Linked DNA regions of Homo sapiens: regions 1 and 2 are each linked to region 3. Evidence: fine-mapped expression QTL. A gene starts in region 3. Each other region holds a variant in brackets. All regions are shown on one strand. Distances are from middle to middle.

Region 1 (2,755 bases), 660 kb after region 3:
TGCGGACTAAGGACTGTTTGCAACTTATTTGCCTTTACAAATGGTAACTTCTACAGAAGCCTCATCTGCTTCCCCAGTTACAATCTTAATCTGGATCATTTCCATTGCAATTGCAAAACCTCTTTCTTATGCAGAGGACATCTAAAAACGGGCTGTTTCTAAATATGATCGTCAAGAATACATCTTTTTAAATGTTTGTACAAAACAGAGGTTAGGCTTTGGTATCTGTGACTGTAAACTACTCTTGGTACCCAGAAAAGAAAATAAGAACACTTACTTCATGAAATACTGCTCCAGAATACGGAGATACTCCCAAGTCCAACAGTGAAAGGCCTTCAACCACTGAAAAATTAGATATACAAGTTCACTCAGACTAAGCAGGCAGCTACAGACCAAATTGTTAGATACCCCCACAACCAAAAAGGGCCTTAGCGTTTATCTAACCCCCTTTACCTCATCCCCAGCAAGTGGCTTTAAGTCTTGAACATTTCTGATGACGGGAAACTCTCTTTCATGGACAGCATCCTTTTTCATTGTGGGCAGCACTCATTATAAGACAGTTTTATGTTAAACTATCTGCTTCCTTTTAGTTCCTTGTAACTCTTACCAACTCTCAAAAATGTCTCATTTATGCCTAATCTTCCCCATTCCAAAGCACAATAAGATAACAAATTAGAAGCTGGTGAGAAATGTTGCCATAGTGTGAGGAAATGGGCAGTCACTCTCATATGCTGCTCATTTGAGTGACATTTGTATTAACTTTTCGACAGGGCAATATGTGCTTTCTAAGTGTGTGCCTTCTGACCCAGATATGATACTTCTTAGGGCAGTTTATCCTATGGAAATAACCTGACAAGTACCCAAAGAGGTATGTTCCTTACACTGTTCAGAGTACTGAACAATTAGAAATAATCTGAATGTCCATTAATGAAAATTTATTTCAATGAATTATGACATAATATATATCTCTATATAATGGAATGCTTTATACTTAAAATTATACTGTGTTATAAATAATAAATAACCTCTCCCTCTCCCTCTCCCTCACCCTCTCCCTCTCTCTCTCTCCACGGTCTCCCTCTCCCTCTCTTTCCAC[G/A]GTCTCCCTCTCCCTCTCTTTCCACGGTCTCCCTCTGATGCCGAGCCGAAGCTGGACTGTACTGCTGCCATCTCGGCTCACTGCAACCTCCCTGCCTGATTCTCCTGCCTCAGCCTGCCCAGTGCCTGCGATTGCAGGCGCGCGCCGCCACGCCTGACTGGTTTTCGTATTTTTTTGGTGGAGACGGGGTTTCGCTGTGTTGGCCGGGCCGGTCTCCAGCTCCTAACCGCGAGTGATCCGCCAACCTCGGCCTCCCGAGGTGCCGGGATTGCAGACGGAGTCTCGTTCACTCAGTGCTCAGTGGTGCCCAGGCTGGAGTGCAGTGGCGTGATCTCGGCTCGCTACAACCTCCACCTCCCAGCCACCTGCCTTGGCCTCCCAAAGTGCCGAGATTGCAGCCTCTGCCCGGCCGCCACCCCGTCTGGGAAGTGAGGAGCATCTCTGCCTGGCCGCCCATCATCTGGGATGTGAGGAGCCCCTCTGCCTGGCTGCCCAGTCTGGAAAGTGAGGAGCCTCTCTGCCCAGCCGCCATCCCATCTAGGAAGTGAGGAGCGTCTCTGCCCGGCCGCCCATCGTCTGAGATGTGGGCAGTGCCTCTGCCCCACCGCCCCGTCTGGGATGTGAGGAGCGCCTCTGCCCAGCCGCGACCCCATCTGGGAGGTGAGGAGCGTCTCTGCCCAGCCGCCCCGTCTGAGAAGTGAGGAGACCCTCTGCCTGACAACCGCCCCGTCTGAGAAGTGAGGAGCCCCTCCGCCCGGCAGCCGCCCCGTCTGAGAAGTGAGGAGCCCCTCCGCCTGGCAGCCGCCCCGTCTGAGAAGCGAGGAGCCCCTCCGCCCGGCAGCCACCCCGTCTGGGAAGTGAGGAGCATCTCCGCCCGGCAGCCACCCCGTCCAGGAGGGAGGTGGGGGTCAACCCCCGCCAGGCCAGCCGCCCCGTCCGGGAGGGAGGCGGAGGGGTCAGCCCCCCGCCCAGCCAGCCGCCCCGTCCGGGAGGTGAGGGGCGCCTCTGCCCGGCCACCCCCTACTGGGAAGTGAGGAGCCCCTCTGCCCGGCCAGCTGCCCCGTCCGGGAGGGAGGTGGGGGGGTCAGCCCCCCACCCGGCCAGCCGCCCCGTCCGGGAGGTGAGGGGCGCCTCTGCCCGGCTGCCCCTACTGGGAAGTGAGGAGCCCCTCTGCCCGGCCAGCCGCCCCGTCCAGGAGGGAGGTGGGGGGGTCAGCCCCCCGCCCGGCCAGCCGCCCCGTCCGGGAGGGAGGTGGGGGGGTCAGCCCCCCGCCCGGCCAGCCACCCCGTCCGGGAGGGAGGTGGGGGGGTCAGCCCCCCGCCCGGCCAGCCGCCCCGTCCGGGAGGTGAGGGGCGCCTCTGCCCGGCCGCCCCTACTGGGAAGTGAGGAGCCCCTCTGCCCGGCCAGCCGCCCGGTCCGGGAGGGAGGTGGGGGGGTCAGCCCCCGGCCCGGCCAGCCGCCCCGTCCGGGAGGTGAGGGGCGCCTCTGCCCGGCTGCCCCTACTGGGAAGTGAGGAGCCCCTCTGCCCAGCCACCACCCAGTCTTGGAGGTGTACCCAACAGCTCATTGAGAACGGGCCAGGATGACAATGGCGGTTTTGTGGAATAGAAAGGGGGGAAAGGTGGGGAAAAGATTGAGAAATCGGATGGTGGCCGTGTC
Region 2 (2,755 bases), 130 kb after region 3:
TAAGATGCTAATTATCAATGTAGTTTAGCATGAACTAATGAAATACAAGCTCAGGATTTTCATGTTAGTATAAAAAAGCTCTTCTTCAACAAATCCCCAAATGGCGGATGACGCCTGTGCAGGGGGCGGCAGGGCGTGGGGTGCGGAGGTCGGGTGGAGGCCGGGCGGAGGCCGGGCGGAGGCCCCCGCAAGCCCTGGGAGGGATGGGGAACCGCGGTGGCTTCCGCGGAGGTTTCGGCGGTGGCATCCGGGGCCAGGGTCATGGCCGTGGACTGGGCCGGAGCCGAGGCCATGGAGCTCGCAGAGGCAAGGCCGAGGATAAGGAGTAGATGCCCGTCACCAAGCTGGGCCACCTGGTCAAGGACATGAAGATCAAGTACCTGGAGGATGTCTCTTCTCCCTGCCCATCAAGGAATCTGAGACCATTGACTTTTTTCTGGGGTCCTCTCTCAAGGAAGAGGGTTTGAAGATTATGCCGGTGCAGAAGCAGACCCGCGCGGGCCAGCGCACCAGGTTCAAGGCGTTTGTTGCCACCGGGGACTACAATGGCCACGTCGGTCTGTGCGTTAAGTGCTCCAAGGAGGTGGCTACTGCCATCCGCGGGTCCGTCATCCTGACCAAGCACTCCATTGTCCCCGTGCGCAGAGGCTACGGGGGAACAAGATGGACAAGCCCACACCGTCCCTTGCAAGGTGACAGGCCGCTGCGGCTCTGTGCTGGTGCACCTCATCCCTGCACCCAGGGGCACTGGCATCGTCTCCGCACCTGTGCCCAAGAAGCTCCTCATGATGGCTGGTATTGATGACTGCCACACCTCAGCCAGGGGCTGCACTGCCACCCTGGCAACTTCGCCAAGGCCACCTTTGACACCATCTCTAAGACCTACAGCTACCTGACCCTCGACCTCTGGAAGGAGACTATATTCACCAAGTCTCCCTATCAGGAATTCACTGACCACCTCGTCAAGACCCACACCAGAGTCTCCATGCAGAGGACCCAGGCTCCAGCTGTGGCTACAGCATAGGGTTTTTATACAAGAAAAACAAACTGAATTAAGCCTGAAAAAAAAAAAAAAAGCTGGTCTCAAATTAGGGGCCAACATGGAAGAATTAATATCTGTTGAGTACTTACTAAGTGTCAGGCCCTATAGATGTTACATGCATTATCTCATTTAATACTCAACAACAGCCTTGTCAGGTTAAAAGTATTATACCCATTTTATAAACAGGTTAATGAAGGCTCAGAGAGTGTCAGTCACTTACCCAACATAACCCAGTGAGTAACAGAGATGGAATTTGAGCCCAAGTCTGTGTGAATCTGAAGCCCATATTATTTCTACTATGTTACAGTGCCTCTGAAAATATATTTAACTGTGCCTACTTCTAATAGAGTTTATGATAAATGATATATATTTGATGTTTATATATTTATATCAATTATTTTACTTCATCATTACAAGTAAGATAGACTATCTAGGGATGATTATCACCACTTTACAGATGAGGAAACAGATGGTCAGAAAATTTAACTTACCTAGCTTCAGACCAGTAAATGATAATAACAGGGCTTGGACACATGTACCGCAACTCTCAGACTCCTACTTTTTCCACATTGGCCTATGAGAGTAGAATTTTATCTATATTTTACCTATGAATTTTCTTTTTTTTTTTTTTTTTTTTTTTGGAGACGGAGTCTTACTCTGTC[G/A]CCCAGGCTGGAGTGCAGTGGTGCAATCTTGACTCACTGCAACCTCTGTCCCCCAGCTTCAAGCGATTCTTCTGCCTCAGCCTCCCAAGTAGCTGGGAGGGATTACAGTCGCCTGCCACTGTGCCTGGCTAATTTTTGTATTTTTAGTAGAAATGGGGTTATATCATCTTGGCCAGGCTGATCTTGAACTCCTGACCTCATGATCTACTCGCCTTGGCCTCCCAAAGTGCTGGATTACAGGCGTGAGCCACCTCGCCCAGCCATATCTATGAATTTTCTGGTTCTAACTTTTTTTAATAGGAGCAAAGAGTGGACATCTTGACAGTCTTGCACTTCTGTTTATGCTTGGACAGATTAAACACATATGTTTATCCCTGTTCACTCCCCAAATCACTGAAGTGACAGTGAGTTAACATTTTTAGGTTTACCAGTCTACAGACAAAGAGAATAAGAAAGAAATCAATAGCAGATTAAGGATATCAACAAATTTTTGGAAGATGGAAAACCATAGCTGAGCTGAGAAAACAATTCTAAATGTTTGCTGAGGGTTATACTAACAAGGGACAAACAGATTCGTACTGCAGAACACTAGAATGTCAGGACTGGGACAGAGCAGATCAGAGGTGATGTGAGAGGCAGAAGAGAGAGGGTTTGGCTGAAAGCCTTTATAGGAAGTGAAACTGCCAGGTCTTTTTCTCCATCCTACTCACTTAGACAACTACCCTTTCATCTCCCTAGCAGCCCCTGGGACAAAATTGAGGTAGAGAAGTTCCAGACACTGAGATACCAGGCACAGCTAAAGATATAATAGCAGGGAGGCTAAGGTAGGAGGATTTCAGACTGAAAACAGAGATTAGATGAATTGTCTACATGCTGAATGGTGAAGCGCACTCAGTCCTCCTGCTGAAATTTATTCCAGGAATGCTGACAGCAAGGCTTGTATTCTCCAGGCAAGATATCAGGGAATTAATTTTAATTAATTAACCCCAGAGGAAAGATCTATACATACTGATATTTGAGGTCCCCCAACAAAACACCTAGGTACCCACTT
Region 3 (2,755 bases):
GATGTGAGTCATGAAATCACAGGTCGGAGGAGGCATCGAGAATATGGTCAGTTCTCAACTTTCAGGGAAATCCATAGCTGAGGAATGAAGGACAACGGGCTTCTCGTGCTCTCACTAGGAAGACTGGTTCACCGGAGGCTGGAACACTGAAAGTGAGAAATCCCGACAGGAGAAATGTGTAGGAGAGAGGACTAGCACCTGGATCAAGTTATAAAACATCTCCTGCATCTTTTTCGGAGATCACCCTTAGCGCGGCCTCTCCGCCCAGTCCCAGATTAGGCAGCGAAGAGCGACCCTCACCTTGTCTAGGTGGCACGTTCCTTAAAAGCGAAAGGACCAGGAGTTTCTTCCTGCCTCGTCTCTTCCGGATCCCTCCTGCACCGCCCACAGCCTGCAGATTTGAGCGCCATCTCCAGGCCCCGCCCACCTCAAGCACCACCCCTCAGTCCTTCCTTGGGGCACGCCTCCTTCCGGCACCCGCCCAGAGTAGCCACCCCCGGGGCCCCTCCTCCCCTCCCTGCTTCCGGGCCCGCCTCCTTCAGGCCCGCTTCCATCTTCCTCCCACTCTAAGCTTCTCTTCAGCCCCGCCTCCCTCCACCCGTGGCTCCGCCCTCTGGGCGATTCTCCATTTAGCCCCGCCCACAGCATCTCCTTTCAAGCGCTGTCCTGGTTCCCGGCTCTCCATCTCCTGCACGGCCTTCCCCACTGGTCCGGCGACCCTCTTCCCAGGGCCTCATCACCATCTTAGCTCCGCCCCTACTTCGGCTCCAAACCTGTGCAAGCTGCCCTCTTCCCGCCCCAGCCCCGCCTCCCCAAGCCGCGTCTCAGTCCCTCCTCCCTTTCAGGCCCCACCCTGGCCCCGCCTTCCTCCCGTCCCCGCCGAAGCTCTGGACCTTTCCAAAGCCAGGCTGAGAGGGTGGGGAGAGCCCATGCGCCTGGGAAGCCGGGCTGTTTCTGGGCGGGGCTGCAGACTCCTCGTGCTCGTGTCACCGTGTCCTTCCCAGGAGACAGAGAAGGAGGAGAGCCCGGAACCAGGGCCGGAGCGGCGGGCGGAGCCGAGCTGCGGGGAGCCGCTCCGGGTGCCCCCACCCCCGCGCGCCTCAGTGGTGCCGGCCGAGGGCAGGGCTCGCGGTTGCGGGGCTCGCGCCGCTGTCAGTGCGGCGGGGCGCGCGAGCGGCGCCAGCTCGGGGCAGCGGAACCCAGAGAAGCTGAGGGGGCGGTAGCGGCGGCGACGGCGACGACGACGACTCCCGCGCGTGTGCCCAGCCTCTTCCCGCCGCAGCCGCCCTTTTCCTCCCTCCCTTACGTCCCCGAGTGCGGCAGTACCGCCTCCTTCCCAGCCGCGCGGCTTCCTCCAGACCTCTCGGCGCGGGTGAGTGGGGACTGCGGGCGTCTCCTTAGGGGTGCGGGGAGGGTGTGTGCTTTGTGCCTTTCCGTTCACTCACTTCTTCCGGCAGGCCGCTGCCTATTTTTAGAAACTTATTTCTGCCCTTCGGGGAGTCCCGGGAGCCCGAGTAACTCTAGGCCCCCTCCGCCGCTCCTTTCTCCCACTCGGACCCGCCGCCCCGGGTCCCCGGCCCCAGCCCTCCGCGCCCGGTCCTGCTCCCGGCGTTCCCTGTCTGCTCTCTCCGCGGGCCAAGTCTGGGCCAGTAGTTGGCTGGGTGGGCCCGCGCCCGCTCGGAAGTTGGAGTCTTTTGTGCTCGTGCCCCGCCCCGCCCGGCGAGGGGCGGAGGGAGGGGAACGGAGGCTGCTCCGGGGAGGCCGCAGGCGGGCCCGGCCGCGGCTGCTTCCGGCTCTCCTAACCCGGACTGGGTCTACGGGCTCCCGGAGGCGCGCAGAGCTTGTCCTGCCTCGGCTCCCGCCTCTTCTGGGCTCTTTGCACGCCTTGGGCTCGGAGAGAAACAACAACGGGCCCTCGAACTGGGGCCGTATCCGCGTTTCACTCAGCCTCCTTGGCGGCCGAGTCTTAGTTTGCCTCTCGGTGACATGGGGGGAAAGAAGGAAACTCGCTTTGCGGGGTGTTCGTGGATTCAGGGAGGGAACTAATATGTGAAAGAAGTGTTTAACACCGACAGGGAACATTTAATGAGACTTCACCCAGGAACTTCCCAAGCCTTATTTCATTTAATGTTCACAACGGCCTTCTGGTTTATCCTCATTTACAAAAGCAGAAATTAAGGCGCAGAGGGGTCAAGTAATTTTCTCCAAGTCACAGTAGCCACAGAAGTGCAAAGGAGTGGTGCCAGTACCTATTATTTATTAATATTTCCTGGTGTGAGCATGTATCATCTCTTAGTGCAGAGGGTATTTTTACCTAGCCTTGGGTCACACCATTTAATTAGGGGCATAACTCTGGGTTTTCCCTGACTTCTGGGCCGTTGTCCACTATACTGTGGATGAAATCCCATTCTGGGGTTACCATAGTTCTAAAGGGAAAGGTTTGGATGAATTCCTTGCTAGTGTTGCGGCAGTTAGAAGTTGATGGATGCAGACTCCAGGTCTCAGACACAACTCAAATTCCCTGGGGTTTTGGCTCAAGGAAGCTTTGAGACTGTAAACGGTGGGATCCACCCTTTAGTTTGTGTGTGGTGTGTTCCTCCTCCCAGACCTTGCAGGTTCTCTGTGTTTAGATTTATCGATCCTAGTTTGATGGGGGTTAGGGGGAGTAGCTCAAGTCATCTGCCTTCAAACAAATATTACTCCTATTTTCAGATAAGGCCCAGAGTGGTTAAAGTGAACTAAAATTAACTTTGGC

What was found. PIP is the estimated chance that this variant, and not a neighbour inherited with it, causes the effect.
Region 1: its variant is the best candidate, but not a certain one, in a credible set for the expression of RALY in whole blood (TOPMed, PIP 0.59).
Region 2: its variant is the best candidate, but not a certain one, in a credible set for the expression of RALY in whole blood (INTERVAL, PIP 0.51).

Annotation. Positions count from the first base shown.
Region 1 is chr20:34,656,903-34,659,657 of GRCh38, forward strand. It overlaps PIGU (phosphatidylinositol glycan anchor biosynthesis class U), which reads right to left. Exons shown (of 12, transcript NM_080476.5): 2 at 278-342. Among named protein-coding and RNA genes, the nearest start is that of PIGU, 19 kb to the right of the region's middle. The variant G/A (reference allele first, on the strand shown) is at 1,097.
Region 2 is chr20:34,122,267-34,125,021 of GRCh38, forward strand. It overlaps the pseudogene RPS2P1. Among named protein-coding and RNA genes, the nearest start is that of EIF2S2, 11 kb to the left of the region's middle. RefSeq lists a silencer at 2,428-2,497. The variant G/A (reference allele first, on the strand shown) is at 1,705.
Region 3 is chr20:33,992,760-33,995,514 of GRCh38, forward strand. It overlaps RALY (RALY heterogeneous nuclear ribonucleoprotein), which reads left to right and starts at 1,152. Exons shown (of 10, transcript NM_016732.3): 1 at 1,152-1,372. It overlaps RALY-AS1 (RALY antisense RNA 1), which reads right to left and starts at 1,608. Exons shown (of 2, transcript NR_109886.1): 1 at 1,446-1,608; 2 at 1-146. RefSeq lists enhancers at 53-132, 69-595 and silencers at 373-622, 793-902, 1,083-1,212, 1,273-1,322, 1,543-1,872.